Linked DNA regions of Homo sapiens. The protein of the gene in region 1 purifies or fractionates together with the protein of each later gene. This does not show direct contact. Each region holds a gene or a part of one and is shown in the gene's direction. Other genes may lie near its edges. The genes, in order: METTL21A, CCDC88A, BAG1, HSPBP1 and NCALD.

Region 1 (3,519 bases):
AGGAGTTCAAGACCAGCTTGGCCAACATGGCAAAACCCCATCTCTACCAAAAAAACTACAAAAATTAGCTGGGTGTGGTGGTGCACGCCTGTGTCCCAGTTACTGGGGGTGCTGAGGTGGGAGAATCGCTTGAGCTTGGGAGGTGGAGGTTGCAGTGAGCTGAGATTGTGCCACTGCACTCCAGCCTGGGTGACAGATGGACTGAGACTCCATCTCAAAAAAAAAAAAAAAAAAAAATTAAGCTTTCCAGATCCAGCAGGACCCCATTTAGTGTGGGCATCATCTCTGGGCACTGCTGTGGGACCCTGTGCTTGCTCTAAGGGGGAGGTTACCTTGCTGCACCAGCTAAGTTCCTGTGTGTGTTGTTAAGCTGGGAATTGAACCTCGAAGTGGGAGAGGGGTGGGTGTAGCTGACCTGAAACCCTGCAGCTACTCAAGCACATGTTGACCTTAATCGTCATCACACTGTGTTTTCATTCAGGCCATCGTTCTTTCCACATACCTGGAGATGGGAGCTGTGGAGCTCAGGGGCCGCTCTGCCGTGGAGCTGGGTGCTGGCACGGGGCTGGTGGGCATAGTGGCTGCCCTGCTGGGTGAGTGTCATGCATTGACTCCTTAGTGAGCAGAACTCATTGAGAGGTGCATTTGCTGTTTTCTTAGCGCAAAACCCTTCGTGGGTTTTCCCCTTACTGGGTTATTATCTTTTGCTTATACTTATGAGTTGTGGGCCAACTGCTGGGGTTCTTAACTCCAGTGAGGCTAACGGGCTAATTTCTCTCTCTCTAATTTCTGTCTCTCTCTCTCACACACACACACACTCTGTTATTTATACTTCCCATGGGAGATTGCTCTGCCCCCTTCAATTCTGTGATGCCAATAATACGATCTTAAAGTGAGTTGATTCAAGGAGAATAATCTTACCCATGTATAGAGTTTTTTTCACATTCAGGGGCTTTCTTTCCCATACACTATCTGATTTAACCCTGTGAGGGAGATAGAGCAGATAGTCTTTTCTTCATTGCTGAGGAAACTTTGCTGGTTTTTCTCTTGTAGGGAGGGCTAGCCCCCACTATAGTTTGTACTGACTTCTTATTTTTAAAATTGTATGAACAGTATACAGTTCTGACTTGATATCAAAGTTTGTCATTTTAAAATTTGGTATACACACATTAATTGAGGCTTGGAGCTAGAGCATTTTTAGGCTTCATTGTTATTTTTATTATTGACTATTGACTCATTTCTATAACTTCTGACATATATAGTTCAAGCTATCTAATCATAAGGGTAGACCAGCTTTCAAGATACAATGTATAATGTTTATCACTTCCATATTGTCACCTGGTGCTCTTGTTAAAATGCAGATTCTGATTTGGCAGGGCTGGACCAGGGCCTGGGAACCTGCATTTCTAACAAGCAGTAGAAATGTCAGTAGTGATGCCGACACTGCTGGTTCTCAGACTACACTTGGGTAGGAAGGATCCAGGATTCCAGAGTATTCTAAACCCATCGCATTGTCTACAGATATTTGAGGACCAGCTAAAGCCCCTCTTTTGTCCTGCCTGTTTTCCAGAAACCCAATACTTTTTCACTATTTCTTTTTCTGCTTAGCTGCTGCTTTCCAAAATTCGACAGGGAGCATGGGCAGGGGTGGTGGTTGAAAGTCTGTGTAAATTGACAGAGGTTTCCGTCCGTCTTCAACCACAGCACTTAAGTCATCGATGAAGCCCTTGCTGGTACACTGCCTTTTATTCTTTTCAGGTGAGCCTTAGAACATTCCCGTGTATGTTAGGTATTATTTTTAATTTTCATTTTTCAAACAAAGCTGGGATTCTGGGAGATGAAGCTACTTTCTGAAGTCCTGATCACTGGAGATCTGGGACTCAAAACCAGGCTTGTTAGACACAGTTAGTTGTTTTATTTTATTTTATTTTATTTTATTTTATTTATTTATTTTTTGAGATGGAGTCTCACTCTGTTGCCCAGGCTGGAGTGCAGTGGCATGATCTCGGCTCACTGCAACCTCCGCCTCCCGGGTTCAAGCAATTCTCCTGCCTTAGTTTCCCTAGTAGCTGGGACTACAGGCATGTGCCACCACGCCCAGCTAATTTTTTATTTTTGGTAGAGATGGGGTTTTACCATGTTGGCCAGGCTGGTCTCGAACTCCTGACCTCAGGTGATCTGCCCACCTTGGCCTCCCAAAGTGCTGGGATTACAGGAGTGAGCCACCGTGCCTGGCCTGTTTTATTTTTTTCTGTAACACCAACTTCTCTCTCTGCTGATATAAGAGTTACTATAAGGGGAAATGAGGTTTCTTCTGTTTCCTCCTGAGAACCAGGGCTTCATGCAAAACTTTCTTGGCTGGTGTATAGACATGTTAGTGTAGCAAAGTGCATAGGCTTAGTTATACTTGGTTTTGACATTTCTTTTCATTCTTACTAGTCGTGTGACCTTGGGCAAGTTGCTTAACCTTTAAACATTGATTACCCCATCTGTACATTGTGCATAATAGTAATATTTACTCCACAGTGAGGAACCAATGAGATTGCGTGTATAACATCTGCTGGCTCACTGAGTGACACAAAGGAAGTGCTCCACGAGTGTTGATTACTCTCTGAGTAACTGCTTTTTCTGATCTAGCAATCTGGTTCTCTGGGGTTGGGAAAGTCAGAATAAGATATTTCAGATACCACCAGAGTTACCATTAGCATTTTGGTATGTTTTGTTTCTCTCCATCTGTATTTTTAATCATAGTTGTAATTATGATTATATATATGTAAATATATATGTCTGCGTATGTGTGTTTTGTGTATCCGTATACACACACCTATACAAATGATGTTTTCACATTATGTCATAAGCATTTCTCTGCTACTGTATGATTTTCATACTCACTATTTGTAGTCACTACAAAGTGTTAGGTTGGAGAAGTTTTGCTGTTGGAGCCTGAGGGTAAGAAAATGTTAGTCTCTTCAAAATAGAATCAGTGAGTACTAGAATAGGTAGTGATTTTGAAATGTCAGGAAGAGATTAATTATTATTCTTTTTAAAGTATATTCTCTTTTTGTAACCTTAGTCATTTATTCCTGAATTTGGGGAGAACCCACCAGAAGCCTGGCGGTCCACTGTGGATGGGGCAATAAACAGGCTGGCAGGTGTCTCCGGAAGCTTACGTTCTGAGTTTAGTGGGTAGAGGTAAAGAAAGAAGATTAAAAAAAAAAAAAAAAAGCGGTGCTATGTAGATATTAATATAGGGTGATGAGACTTTCCTGTTAAAAACCAGCTGCTAATTCCTGAGTAGTTCCTGTGTTCTGAGGACTGTGCATTACACCCTTTCATTCTCACAGTCACCCTGCATGGTAAGTAGGCCTTACCTACTTATAGCGCCCTTCCAGTGGTGAAAGGGAGGCTTCTTGGAGGGTAAGTAACTTGCCTGAGGTCACAAAGCTAATGGATTGTGCTTAGAATTTGAATCCAATCTGACTCTCAAATCCTCGTTCTTAGTTTGAAAATCTCCCTGGT
Region 2 (3,534 bases), about 150 Mb from region 1:
TAAAGAAGTACTCCAAGAACAATCTGCTTTTTTCATCATTTGTTTTATGAATTTATCCATGTTTGCTTAATGCTTCTGCTAAGTGTTAGCCAAAATCTAGCCATTTATATTTAGTTGTGTAAACCTAAATTAAATGCTGTAGTATTTTGTGGAATGTACTATATAGCAAGATACAGAGAAAATTGTTTTGGCATGTCAGAGCCTTATTTGGTTAGCAGACTGCATGTGTTGATACTTTTTTTTTCTTAAAGCCAATTATTTTGATGCAAAAGAAATTCAGTTTATAAGATAAATCTGAAAAATCCATAATGAAATAGGAGTTATAAAAAATTTATAGTGATATTAATCTTTCCATATTTCCCATTAAGCAACACTAAGCATTCATAAGTTAACCCATGGTAAAGAGTGTTTTTCTGAAACTTTTTTTTAGTAAGATGGTTTTTCAGCAAATGGCATTCCCAAGATAAAGCTGTTGTGCTTTAACTCATTTCTTTTCTTTGGTATTGGGTTATGTATGCGTGTGCATTTTTTTAACTTGAGAGCTGACTGTTGCTTAAGAAGTTTTCTTATGGCAAAAATAATGTAAATAAGTTACTATGATCTGCATTTTGCCAGAAACTCATTTATAATTAAGGCTATCATTTATTAATGATTTTTTTCTCCTTTATGATATTACATTAAAGTTGATAACTGTTATTGGTACTTTTGAAATATTTGTATGCATTTGTTACCTTTAAACATTTGGAAGAAGCACAAAAAAATAGATTTAGTTAACCCAGGGAAACATCAATTTTTTTAGTAGTTCCAATTTTATATCACAGTTTTATTTTCTTATGAAATCAAAAAATGCATTGATACTCATTAATGCAAATTCATTATTTAACATCAATATCAGAGTAATCTTCAAGGTCTGAAATGAGAAACATACTGACTTTTTAAAATTTTAACAGTGTACTTCTTAGGCTTTCATTACCAGCTCTGAAGAACTTTTTGGAATAATTCCATATTCCATAGTGTGTGGTTTATGAGTTGTGGGTTTCATCACTAACCCAGTAACCATAAGAAAAGTCTCTCTCTCTCTCTCTCTCTCTCTCTCTTTCTCTCTCCCTCTTTCTCTCTCTCTTTCGTAGGCCAGTAGCAATGTTGTGTTCACAGTCTAATTTCCAAAAGACCATCAATAAAAAAGAGAGCATGTTTAAATTGAAATGGAACTTAGAGAACTTGAGCTTACTTACGTACTTCAATGCCACCGGTAACTTAGGTTTTACCACCAAATGCTGTTAACGTTAAATCATTTTGAAAATCTTGGATGAAAGGTGCTATGTAAATGGAAATACAAAGGATTCTTACTAACATACAAAAATAATGCACAACAGAAATATCTAAAACCTTTTCCGTAGACTTTGAAACATCTCTCTCTCTCATAACTCCCTGGATTCAAGTAGCACATTGGTAATAGGTATCAGAGCAGTCTAGAGACAATTGCATGTCAAAAAATGTACATTCATTTTTAGGTGGATAAAAGTAAACATAGAAATTATGTTATGGCTAAATACAGTTAGTGGGTAACTTAGATTTATATTAGCTAGCATCTAATTTGCACAACTAGAACACATCCCAGAACAATTACTGAAAAGCTGAAATTTAATGGGTGGTGATGTAGCCCAATGAGGGCGAATGACATTACAGCTTGACCTCTCCAGAACACTAATATCCTAAAATACAGAACATGCTGGGTTAAGTGCATTAGTGCTTCAAGCAGAAAATGCTGAAAACAACGTGTAAAGTACTGAATCTGAGTAGGCTGACCCTGAGAAGGGACAATTAAAGAGACAACCAAGGGAACACATTGAGACTACAAAAATATGAATAATCTCAATTATATTCATCACACTTTTTTCATACCATTTCAAGAAACGACTAGACAGTAGTAACCACATGAATATTTTACTTTCTCCAGTATACCTTGAGAAGCAAACTTTGTAGGAAGCCACTCTTCTCCCCTAAACAACTTCTGCCAAACAATAATAAAGCCAACTGGAAACGAATCGGAGCCATTTTCATTTTCCTAACCGGGGCCTGACATGCTTTAAATTATCTGGCTGTATTCTAAATCAACACCTAACCCCTCAAGGAAACTGAAGAATCAATATACAGGGTAATAGCTTTGGCTCAGAGCTCCAATAATGTGCTTCAGATCTGTCCATGTGGAAATGCTTTCATCCAAATTTTTAAATTGGTGGTTACCAAAGAGTTCACAAAACAGGTTTGTATGTAGCACCTTTCATGCAAGGCATGCAAAAAGCCTATTTTAAAATCACTGTGCATATTATAGAGTTGTAGCCACCTCACAATGAAGTACTACAGCCTGTGCTGTCTTAATGGTTTATGTCAGGAAATGAAAAAGATACTGTACCAAATCTGGAATTACAATGGGGAGTAATAATGTATACTAAATGACTTTTGTATTTTAAGTTACTTTTTGTGAGTGGTGAATTTTTGTGTTTTTCTTTTCAGCTACACTTAGTCCTGAGATGTATTTTTTCTTTAAGTCTTGAATGAATACAAAAGGAGCCCATTTTATAATATAAACCTTGATGTACATGTTGAGATATTTGGACAATGAAAATGCCTTAAAAGGAATGCATATGGATAAAGTTGCACTTATAACACCCTTCAACAAAATCTAATTTTAAATTGTCTTTTTCTTTTCTATTAAGGGTTTTCTTTTTCAGTGTCTACCATTGTACTTATAACTGTTATTAAATACCAAATCAAATAATATAAAAGCTGTAACATTTCCTTTAAAACTAATGCTAATAAGGGATTTAGAGTTGAATGGCAAAATGTTTATTACTTGGCAATACCTGATGTCAGTCACAGGCATCCAACTCATGACAAGAGATACCACTGTTTGTTTTTTAAAAAACATTTTTCATTTTGTTTCTCCTTCAAAAATTAAGTTGGACTAACATTCACGTATCAAACTAATATAAAAAGAAATAAAACCAAGAGGTGATTTTTGTAACAACTGGTTAGTAATCATTTAAAAATGATATCATTTTAGCCAAGTGTTATTTTATTTCTTTCCATTTTCCCTAGAGAACTATCGTCAGACATAACCCATGACCTTGTTTAGTTGATTCTGTCATATCATTTTGTGATAAGTATTAGGGGTTTGGAGAGAAAGAGCATCTGTCAATTTTATCAGTCCCAAAATAGGTTTAAATGTAATCTAATAGATTGCACAAATGAATCTCCCATTTTCACTTAGACTTTGGGAGACAAAGGAACTGGCCTCATCCTTGGGCTGGTCAGTTTTTCTGGGCCTGTTTTCACTATAAGGTGGGGAGGGCAATTAGACCAGATACCTAAGGTACTTAATTTCTGTGTATTCATTAGTACCTTCATTTCATATGCAAAGCAACCTAAAACGGCTACTTTGTGTTAGAGATAGAATACCGAGTATGTAAAAACTAAGAGGAACCTTAGAATAAAGTCATTACTTTTATTTTGCCTTTTAGTAACACAACT
Region 3 (3,519 bases), on another chromosome or scaffold:
GAGGCATTTTTATTTATATTTCATAGTGTAACATATTGTCTTTAATTTTTAAAAATATTTTATTTCTGAATTATAAAGACAATAGAAATTCATGTTTCAAAATAGAGGAATGCATGAAAAAGAAAATGTTCCCCTGGATAAAACCCCTCATAATAACACTGTGTCATCAGCATTCATTGTGGTATTGGGGTTTCCTGCAAAAAATGAGCTTTAATGGCTACTGTAGACCTTAATGCCTACTGAAGACTTTAAAGTCTTCTGTAGTGTGGTTCGTTGGTCCCTGATTCCTGAATATTTGGCTCTTTCCAGTTTCTCACTATTATGAAAAGGTTGCACTGAATATTATCGTATAGTAGTTACTGTGGAGTCGCATGTCCAATTATTTGTTTAGGATAAATATCTGGAAATGAAATTACTGGGTCATGACACCCTCTAAAAAGATACCAGTTCTCATTAGTGAACACACTTGTCTATTTCCTGTATCCTGCTGAAATTTATTTTCAGTGTTGTACAATTATTACAACTTGGCCTACCTTTCTCCTCTTTTTAGGAAAATCTCTGAAGGAAATGGAAACACCGTTGTCAGCACTTGGAATACAAGATGGTTGCCGGGTCATGTTAATTGGGAAAAAGGTAAATTGCTTTTTCCATCAGAAATCCTCAGAATCAAATGACTGAAGTCTTTTATACATGTTTCTGTTTAGAAGACCAAACTGGGGACCCAGATTCTGCATTGATAAAACACCTCTCTAAACAAATACAATCTTTATTGGTTTTACAGGATTACCAGTTTTGTTGTTCTCATACCCTCCTGCTCCTGTTGGTTAGAACTTTTGCTCTAGGAATTAGGAGCGGTTGTGCTGCCTTAATAATATGTTTTTTGTTTTGGTGGTGGAATCTTGGTCTGGTTAAAATGGTGCCTGGGACAGGTCTCATTCACTTGGAGTAGAATTTGCAAGAGTCTTTTGTTAAAATAAACTTGTAGATATTAAGAATAATCACTCTGTTCCAGTTCAGGAGCCTCTCTCCCTTTAACCAACCTTTTAACTAAAATCTCCCACAAGGGAAAACCTTCGACTGGAAAGGAAGGTTCAGACTAAAGAACTGAGGGGAAAAAAAGACAGATGAGGTCAGCAACCCTTAAGGTGATGAGAGAGGGCTGTGGCCAGCCCTGCATTGTGACACAGCAGAATTATGAGCATATGAAGTTCCCTTATTGTGAGTTAGGTGGCTGAGTAGAGAGAGGGCAGATAAACAAAGTGAAGGCAAAAAAAATCTAATCCAGACTTGGAACTGCCAGGAGACTGGAACTCAGGACTTGCCACAAAGAGAAGTGAATAATTTGGGATAGCATAACTAAGCAGAAAGCTGCTAGACCTATCTATCAATTGTTTACCTGAGAGAAGAGGGAAATATTCTAAATTTCTTGCTTCAGGGTCAGGGAGAATGGTGATGGGCAACAGGCAGAACCAAAGAGTCAAGTTTGAAGAAACTATAGGACTTTTACTTGGAGCTGACACAGAGCGTATGGAGCGAAGTGTGAACTCAAGGAAGGCACCATGGCACATGCCTATTGTCCCAGCAAGTTGGGAGTCTGAGACAGGAGGATCACTTGAGTCCAGGGGTTTGAGGCTGCAGTGAGTTATGATCATGCCTGTAAACAGCCACTGCACTCCAACCTGGGAACCGTAGTGAGACCCTATCTCAAAAAAGAAAAAAGTCTGAACTTAAGTCTAATCTACCTCTTTTGGACTGTGTGATCTCATGTTACTTTACTACATTAAGCCTCAGTTTCATCATCTGTAAAACAGCAGTACTTCCCTGATGGAGTTGTGGTAAGGCTTAAAAAATAGGTAAGGTGCTTAGGATAGTGTGTGGCATGTAGGAAGTGTTCAATAAAAGTATTCATCGTTGTTAACCAGCATCACATTAAACAGGAGCGCTCAATTGGAGGCTGCCATTTAGGAATTCCATTTAAAGGAATGGTAGAATTCCACCTTTCTTGCCATTCTGGACTCCTCACAAGTGTTTACTGAAATGTGATTACCCTCCAGGCTTCAGTCTTGGTTGTTGATCAGTATAGGGCTGAGACTGAATCTGGCACTTGGATTGTCTCCATTCTCTGCACCCAAGCTGTCAGGGCCCTCACCAGAATGTTTACCTAACACCTTCTCTCTAGTCTGGAGTCTTTGTAGATGGAAAACTTGATGTATAACCCTTTGACTTGATTTCCAAGAAGCAACAGAGTTAAAACTGTTATTTCTAGGTGAGTGGCTTCATGCAGGTGTGGTCAGGTATTTTTCCTGACAGAGGCTGCTGTTCTTGTTGATTGCTTTTTCTTTTTTCTTTTTTTTTTTTGAGACAGTCTCGCTCTGTCACCCTGGCTGGAGTACAGGTGCACGATCTCAGCTCACTACAAACCTCCACCTCCCAGGTTCAAGCTATACTCCTGCCTCAGCCTCCCGAGTAGCTAGGACTACAGGTGCACGCCAGCATGCCTGGCTAATTTTTTTGTTTTTTTAGTAGAGACAGTGTTTCACCATGTTGGCCAGGCTGGTCTTGAACTCCTGACCTCAAATGATCTGCCCATCTCGGCCTCCCAAAGTGCTGGGATTACAGGCATGAGCCACCATGCCCAGCCTGTTCTTTTTGACTATTGGCTTTATTTTCTTCTTAAACATTTTAGAACAGTCCACAGGAAGAGGTTGAACTAAAGAAGTTGAAACATTTGGAGAAGTCTGTGGAGAAGATAGCTGACCAGCTGGAAGAGTTGAATAAAGAGCTTACTGGAATCCAGCAGGTAACTCTCTTCATGGACCTTAACTTTCTGCCTTCTATCAGAGCTTCCTGGATATAACTTGTGGTTATGGGGACATGTTCTGCAGTCAGACTCCCTGGGTTCAGATCCTGGATTCACCCTTTCTCTTACTGTGAACAAGTTTATCTTTGTCTCAAGTTCCTCATCTGTAAAAATGGAATAATGGTGACATTTCCCTATTAGGATTGTTGGGAGAATTAAATAATGTAGATTGAGCTTGACACATACTAAGTGCTTTATAAGCATTTATTGTCATAGTTATTGTCAAACCCCAGCCAGCATCCATTTATGCTCACAGGAGAGCACCTGCCTTGCTAGGATCATGTATTGTCTGAAATAGAACAAGTAGCTTCTCTCTGGGCTGTTGTAATGTGTTTGGCAAGGCAAATAACATTTTGTTGGTTCATAGAAGGTCCAAGTTGAACATGATAGTGGGGTTGGGGGAGTCATCCTATTCAATTCCTTATATTAGAGATGGGGTACTAAAACCCAGTAAGGATTAGGACTAGCTCAAGACCACTTTTATTTATTTTTCCCTCTCATTTTATAGCATTAATTGGGGTGTGTTTGTGTTTTGGCTTTTTTTTTTTTTTTTTTTTTTTTGATATGGAGTCTCGCTCTGTCACCCAGGCTGGAGTGCAGTGGTGCAATCTCAGTGGCTCCCTGTAGCCTCTGCCTGCCAGGTTCAAGTGATTCTCCTG
Region 4 (3,519 bases), on another chromosome or scaffold:
TTTTACTCCAAGCAGCAGAGCTCACAGAAGGTTTGAGGAGAGCTCACTTCCATTTGGAGGGGTTGGGTGGTGTAGCAATTGAGGGTGTGGATTTGGGGTGTCACTTCCTTGGTTCATAGTTCAGGCTGTGCTGCTACATGGCAGTCTGGTTTGGGCAGGTCCTGATTACTTCCTCTTGTACGCAGGCTGGGCCGAGAGAAACCCCCAGGCCCGCACAACACCAGGCACAGAGTAAACGTAACGTGTCAGGCCTGGGAGTCAGGTGTCTTCATTTTGGACAGGGGCTGGACGGAGTTTGGGAAGCCCTCCTCTGTGAGCGCATGCAGCACCCCGAGAAGACCTGCAGTGCAGCCGCCACCCTCTAGCTTACCTTTCCCCAGTGTCTCCCCGTCTTATCCGGGCAGAGAACTCCTGCTCCAATCCGCAGGATGGCTTTTAACGACTTTGCTCTTTCATTCATTTTTTGCTTGTTCAGGAAATATCTGTTGAGCAGCTGCTGTGTGCTAAGCACTGTGCTGAGTGTCCAATCATCACAGCAGCAGCAATTTTACACCTTATTAGTAATCAAATGAGAACGAAAGCCAAAGATACCACTTCCTCCCTGGCCTCGTGCGCTCTCTGTGTATATAAATATAAATATATATGTGTATCTTCTCTGTCTTAATGAAGATGCACAGTGCTGATGAAGGTGGGCTGAGGGGAACATCCTCCCATATGACTGTTTATACCACTTACAGTCAATTCAGAATGTTGTGCAACACCACCTCTATTTCCAGAACTTTTCCATTGCCTGCAAAGGAGACCCAGCACCCATTAGGCCGGCCCTCCCCCGGTCCCCTGGCAACCACTAATCAGCGTTTTGGCTGTATGAATTTGCCTGTTCTGGACATTTCATATAGATGATTATAACGTGACCTTTTGTGTCTGGCTGATTGTGCTAAAGGCGGCGTGCCCATGTTGTGGCGTGTGTCAGAGCTTTATTCCTTTTTTTTTTTTTTTTTTTTTTGAGTCAGTCTCCCAGGCTGGAGTGCAGTGGTGCAATCTCAGCTCACTGCAACTTCCACCTGCTGGGTTTCAGTGATTCTCATACCTTAGCCTCCCAAACAGCTGGGATTACAGGTGCATGTCATCAGGCCTGGCAAATTTTTTTTTTTTTTTTTTCTGAGACAGAGTCTCACCCTGTTGCCCAGGCTAGAGTGCAATGGCGCGATCTCAGCTCACTGCAACCTGTGCCTCCCGGGTTCAAACGATTCTCCTGCCTTGCCCTTCTGAGTAGCTGGGCTTATAGGCGCCCACCACCATGCCCAGCTAATTTTTGTATTTTTAGTAGAGATGAGGTTTCACCATGTTGGCCAGGCTGGTCTTGAATTCCTGACCTCGTGATCCACCCACCTTGGCCTCCCAAAGTGTTGGGATTACAGTCATGAGCCACCGCACCTGGCCAGGCCTGGCATTTTTGTATTTTTAGTATATAACATAGCAAAAACCCTGTTTTGCTATGTTACCTGGGCTGGTCTCGAACTCCTGGCCTCAAGTGATCTGCCCACCCTGGCCTCCCAAAGTGCTGGGATTATAGGCTTGAGCCACCACGCCCAGCTGCTTCATTCCTTTTTATGGCTGAGTAATACTCCGTTGTATGGCTAGAGCAGTTTATATTTATCCCTTTATCCTTTAAGGACATTTGGGTCATTTATGAATGATGCTGCCATGAACTTGAGTATATAAGTATCTGAGTCCCTACTTCTGGTTCTTTTGGGTCTGTGCCTTGGTGCGGAATTGCTGGGTCACGGGGAATCTGTATTTCATTTTTTTAGGAACTGCCACGCTCTCCAATACCACTTTATTTACAAAAACAGGAGGTGGGCTGTGGTTTGCTGACCCTGGGGACATTCAGATTGTCACAAAGACCAGGATCAGTCCTGGCATTTAGTAGTCTGGAGCCTGGGGCCCTAATGCCCCAAATGCTGATGGAATCGAGTTGTACTAGCCTTGGGGGGACCTCTGGTTGGGTGTTTGGAGAGAGCTGCGTCCCTGTGGGAGCCGGCCTGGCTCTCCCGGCCTCAGCAGCTGTAGTGGTCAGCTTAGGGCCACCTTAGCCAAGCACCACAGACTACTGGCTTTAAAAACAGAAATGTATTTTCTCACGGCTCTGGAGGCTAGAAGTTTGAGATCAGGGTGTGGGCAGGGCTGGTTTCTCCTGAGCCCCCCTCTCCTTGGCTTGCAGAAGGCATTTTTTGTGTCCTCCCTCCATGTTGTCCCTCTGTGGGTGTCTGTGTCCTCATCTCTTCTTCTTATCAGGACGCCAGTCAGATTGCATTAGGGCCCACCCTAAGGACCTCATTTTACCTTAATGATCTCTTTAAAGATCCCATCTCCAAAAACAGTCACATTCCAAGGTACTGGGGGTCAGAACATCAACCCATGCATTTTGGGGGGCACGGTTCAGTCCCTAACATCTGGCCTCTCTCTGCTCCCCTCTGTGGCACAGACTTCTGCCAGCTGTCTGGCATGCACCTGCTGGTGGGCCGGTACCTGGAGGCGGGGGCTGCGGGACTGCGGTGGCGGGCGGCACAGCTCATCGGCACGTGCAGTCAGAACGTGGCAGCCATCCAGGAGCAGGTGCTGGGCCTGGGTGCCCTGCGTAAGCTGCTGCGGCTGCTGGACCGCGACGCCTGCGACACGGTGCGCGTCAAGGCCCTCTTCGCCATCTCCTGTGAGTGTCCGGGTGGGGCTGGGGACAGGGGTGCTGGCGGTGGGGGGGGGTGCCGGGTGGGCCCCCGGGATCTGCTGGGGCAGAGGGAGAGGCATCTCCTTCCCTCGTTTGTTCCCATGCTTGTTGGACCCCTGCACGGCTGAGTGCTGCGGGCAGAGTGAGTGGCGCACTCGGCCAAACCCCCTGCTAGCCAGGCAGCAGATGTGACCACTTCCCGGGGAGACCACCTGGCCCTCAGCGTGAGCGCTTTGCACACAGCAGTTTTTCAGCTGGGCACTGTTCACACTGGCGCTGGTTCACTCTCTCGGGGGCCGTCCTGTGCACTACAGGACATTGAGCAGCATCTGGTGGGTGGCCTCCAGGCCATGGAGAGACACTATCACCCCACCTGCCAGCGCACAAATGCCCCTAGATGTAGAAAGCCCCTTGGTCAGAACCCCTGCTGTACATGAATTCTTCTTCTTCTTTTTTTTTTCATTTAACCTATATAGAGACAAGACTTGCTTTGCTACCCAGGCTAGTCTTGAACTCCTAGCCTCAAGGGATCCTCCCGCCTTGGCCTCTGAAAGTGTTGAGGTTACAGGTGTGATCCACCATGTCCAGCCACAAATTCTTTTTATCCTAATGGCCTGTGAAGTAGGGACCGTTTGCATCCTCATTTGACAGGGGAAGAAACTGAGGTGTGGGCAGAGGGACACGGCCAGGTTTCTGCAGCTCCATAGGGCAGAGCTGGCCAGGACTCCCCCAAATACTGCCGCCTGGGACACAGGCACCAGGTCGGGCACAGGGACGGGACAAAAACCAAC
Region 5 (3,519 bases), on another chromosome or scaffold:
CAGTAGACACTTAGTGCCTGTTTGTGGAATAAATGAGTTCCAAAAGGAGGTTGTCTCCTTCTTCTTCACTACTTCTTTCTGACTTTTTATGGATTGTTGTCTTAATCTCTATAAATGCTTTGTCCTTGGGGCTAGTAGAGCATAGGGCTAAAACCACTGGGCAACCAAGCAGCAGCCCACACTCACAGTTAGGCTCTCTCATTCACAAGCAGTGTCACCTGGAATAAGTCACCTAGCCTCTCTGAGTTTTCATTTATTTGCTTATGAGATAGAGAAAGCCTGCCTGCCTATCACACAGGTTGTGAAAGTTTAATAGGATGTCACATGAAAGATCATCTAGGATAAGGCATCATTTTCATTTATGGCAGCGTCTGGCCCTGACTGAATGCCAGAGCTTTACATGTTTGACTGTCTCATTTAACTCTCACATGGAATCAATAAGAGATGAACTCATATCATTAAACTCATTTTACAGATGAGAAAACTGAGGAGAACCAAAATGTTAAGTGAATTACCCACCAGCTAGTAAACAATAGAGCCAGGCTTTGAAGCCAAGCATTTTTATTCTAGTGTTTTTCCAGTGTTCATCCAACAGGACATCCAGGAGGCCAACGTGTCATAGTTCCCAACAGATTATATTCTGAGTTATCTACAAACTTTTTTGAGTCACTTGAAGATTTGTCTTTACACTCTGATTATAGTTTCCACCAGCCTATGCAGACTGCCAAGTAGGTCTCATTTTTTCCTCTTAGAAATGGTAAAATATCATATAGTCACTTATAAGAAAAACTGTGATTAGAAAAAATTTTAGCATTATCCACTTTATGGTCATTCAAGAATGTTAAGTGTGAGCAGAGAACAACAGTTCCACAACTTGATTAGTTGGTAGTTTAACATGGATGTCTGAAAGTCACATATACGTAATTTCTTAGGATTCTTAAATTAGTAAATCTAGTTTACTGAAGCAGTATTAGCATTACTATTTTAGATTGCAAAAATGCCTTAATTGTGTAGAATTGGCTTATAGAGTGTTACTTAAGAAAAATGTGATTCTACCTCTATTTCTGTTGTAGCACACTTAACAACAAACAAACATGAAAAGATATATTAGCTTTCATAGAAACATTTTTGTTCTGTAAATAGGTTAATGATATGGTAAGGCCCCTAAGATAACTGAATTAACATTGTTTATATTAATGTTACTGCTGTTTATAAGATAGTATGAATTTGTGGGCTTATCTGAATTGTAGGCCATTCCCGTGATTAAAAATAAAGACAAAACTTTGAGTTACTGTTTGCGAAAACCTTATTGTGCTATGTAGAAATATTGAACTAATATTAAAATATTTGATGCTTTGGTTTCAGGGATTGGTTTAAAATTGGAGTCCTTTTTTTATTGGTTAGTCTTACAAAAGTGTAAGCCATTATATTTTTGACTATTTAAATAAAAACAAATGTTATTTTAAATATACAGAATGGATTGATAGTATAGGAGAGTGTAAGTTCTTCATAGGAACTTTAGAAAAGAAATATATGCTAATTCAGTTTTTTTAATCTTCTGCACAGTATATATACACTTGGTAATTTTGAACTCAATTTTGTGTTTTGAAAATATGTGTTCATAATTTAGGTAATTTGCTACTTAAAGCAATAAGTCTCTGATACCTGAAAAGTAAATGTAAATGGCGACGGTGAAATAATACTGCAATTAACTTAATAGAGAAAAAATTATTAAAAGACAGCCTGTCATACCTATGTTCAACTAGCACAAAATAAATGTTTTAATGACTGACTGGAGTTATGAAAACGATTTGACCCAAGGTGCAATTTTTGTCTCCAAACTGTTTTTCTCTTAACTGCCAATTACTGTAGCATTTCCCTAATGTTATCCTGCCCCATCCCTTCGACTCAAACGGGCAGAAATTCCTGTCTTCCCAAAGAAAAAGGTATTGTCAGGCTTCCCTCTGTCTTCCTCCTCACCACCTAAGGAATGAAACTCTGTCAAATGTCCCCTAAGATTTGTGTTGTACCATCTAACCAAGTCCAGATGGTGTCTCAAGTTTAGTCCTCATACTTAGTAAAGTGTTTGTAGATGAATTCTAGGCTTAATTGTGAACACTCGTTTTCCCAATAACTTATTCCATGCTTTTCTGACTTGTTTGTGTTATGGCCTTTCTGTGCTGATGAATTTGTAAATGTGGTTTAATTACTGTTTACCAAAAAATAGCTGCACACAGATCAGTCTCAGTGGGAGACTTAGCTAAAATGTTGAGGCAATTTGTTTCTAGTGCAAAAGCAGCTAATAAATTTGAAGCACTTTTTAAACACTGGGAAAGGCACTTAAGTTTGGTTGTGAAGAAACAGTGCTTTATACATTGGAGACATAAATCATTCTTTAAGAGAGTAGATTTAAATATCAGAATGGCATTTTTCCCCAAGGCCAGGCAAGCAGCAATTTGCACAAACTGTAAAAATGGTGATTTGATTGAAAACCACACCAAAGAGATATATTCTAAAGAACTCCCCAAAAGGAAAACTTGAAATTACTTGTAAATTCCATAAAATGTCTCAGAGCTCTAGAAAGCCGGGTATTATGTATTACCGGATGTTTCTGAATTCTGGCCTCAGGCAAATTGCCAACTTAGCAACTAAATGACAGCTTTACAATTCTAATACAAACCAGCCTCTGTAACTCTGTTTTTTTAATCTCCAGGGGAAAAAAAGGACACAGAGGGAAGTGAAAGATATTAGACTGTTCAATTTATAAATTCCATTTGTTCTCCATTTGAGTTGCAGTTGAATTTTGCTTTTGCATAAAATGGTGTTTGCTTGATTCTGCCTAAAGAGGGAACTCTGGGCCAAGCGTGGTGGCTCATGCCTGCAATCCCAGCAATTTGGAAGACGGCATGAGCCCAGGAGTCTGAGACCAGGCTAGGCAACAAAGTGAGACCCCCATCTCTACAAAAAATAAAAAATTTAGCCAGGCATGGTGGTACACACCTGTAATACCAGCTATTTGGGAGGCTGAGGCAGGAGGATTGCTTAAACTCAAGAGTTTGAGGCTGCAGTGGGCCATGATTGCACCAGCACATTGCAGCCTGAGTGACAGAGTCTTAAAAAAAAAAAAAAAGGCAGGGGGAACCCAAAAAGTAAGTTCCTTCCTACAGCAGTTGGCCATACTCATAGGTGAAGTGCCCCATACTCCCATCACTTTGGACACCTGCATATGAGCAGGGCAGGTTTTGCCTCCAGTGCAGAAGTCAGAAAACAAAATCAATAAACTTGGCAATGAATGAGGATTGCTGGTCATTATCTGAACCATGAGTATTATGCAAGCAGTTTGAGTAGCGTGAGATACAAACACCACCCCGTAGAAGTTTATTTTTAGTGAGGCCACCAGACAGGCCTCACTAAATTCAATATAAGAGATCCTAAGCTCAAGTCTTAACCACCAGATAGTTTTCAGTGTGTAAAATAGCGTTCTGAAAACCAAGCCCCCGTGCTTCTGGCAGTGAGCCT

What was found.
Region 2: the proteins of METTL21A (region 1) and CCDC88A purify together in Homo sapiens (affinity purification with mass spectrometry, with the first as the bait; one study listed by BioGRID). This does not show direct contact.
Region 3: the proteins of METTL21A (region 1) and BAG1 purify together in Homo sapiens (affinity purification with mass spectrometry; one large-scale study listed by BioGRID and IntAct). This does not show direct contact.
Region 4: the proteins of METTL21A (region 1) and HSPBP1 purify together in Homo sapiens (affinity purification with mass spectrometry; 3 studies listed by BioGRID and IntAct, with this or other methods). This does not show direct contact.
Region 5: the proteins of METTL21A (region 1) and NCALD purify together in Homo sapiens (affinity purification with mass spectrometry, with the first as the bait; one study listed by BioGRID). This does not show direct contact.

Annotation. Positions count from the first base shown.
Region 1 is NC_000002.12:207,618,880-207,622,398, reverse strand, and holds part of METTL21A (protein N-lysine methyltransferase METTL21A), read left to right. Parts: intron 1-481; coding exon 482-593; intron 594-1,608; coding exon of another isoform or gene 1,609-1,658; exon of another isoform or gene 1,659-1,704; coding exon of another isoform or gene 1,705-1,758; intron 1,759-3,519. UniProt on the Homo sapiens protein: Protein-lysine methyltransferase that selectively trimethylates residues in heat shock protein 70 (HSP70) family members. Contributes to the in vivo trimethylation of Lys residues in HSPA1 and HSPA8.
Region 2 is NC_000002.12:55,287,339-55,290,872, reverse strand, and holds the end of CCDC88A (girdin), read left to right. Parts: 3' UTR 1-3,031; downstream 3,032-3,534. UniProt on the Homo sapiens protein: Bifunctional modulator of guanine nucleotide-binding proteins (G proteins). Acts as a non-receptor guanine nucleotide exchange factor which binds to and activates guanine nucleotide-binding protein G(i) alpha subunits.
Region 3 is NC_000009.12:33,258,201-33,261,719, reverse strand, and holds part of BAG1 (BAG family molecular chaperone regulator 1), read left to right. Parts: intron 1-550; coding exon 551-633; intron 634-2,686; coding exon 2,687-2,800; intron 2,801-3,519. UniProt on the Homo sapiens protein: Co-chaperone for HSP70 and HSC70 chaperone proteins. Acts as a nucleotide-exchange factor (NEF) promoting the release of ADP from the HSP70 and HSC70 proteins thereby triggering client/substrate protein release.
Region 4 is NC_000019.10:55,273,592-55,277,110, reverse strand, and holds part of HSPBP1 (hsp70-binding protein 1), read left to right. Parts: intron 1-2,488; coding exon 2,489-2,713; intron 2,714-3,519. UniProt on the Homo sapiens protein: Inhibits HSPA1A chaperone activity by changing the conformation of the ATP-binding domain of HSPA1A and interfering with ATP binding. Interferes with ubiquitination mediated by STUB1 and inhibits chaperone-assisted degradation of immature CFTR.
Region 5 is NC_000008.11:101,721,466-101,724,984, reverse strand, and holds part of NCALD (neurocalcin-delta), read left to right. Parts: intron 1-3,519. UniProt on the Homo sapiens protein: May be involved in the calcium-dependent regulation of rhodopsin phosphorylation. Binds three calcium ions.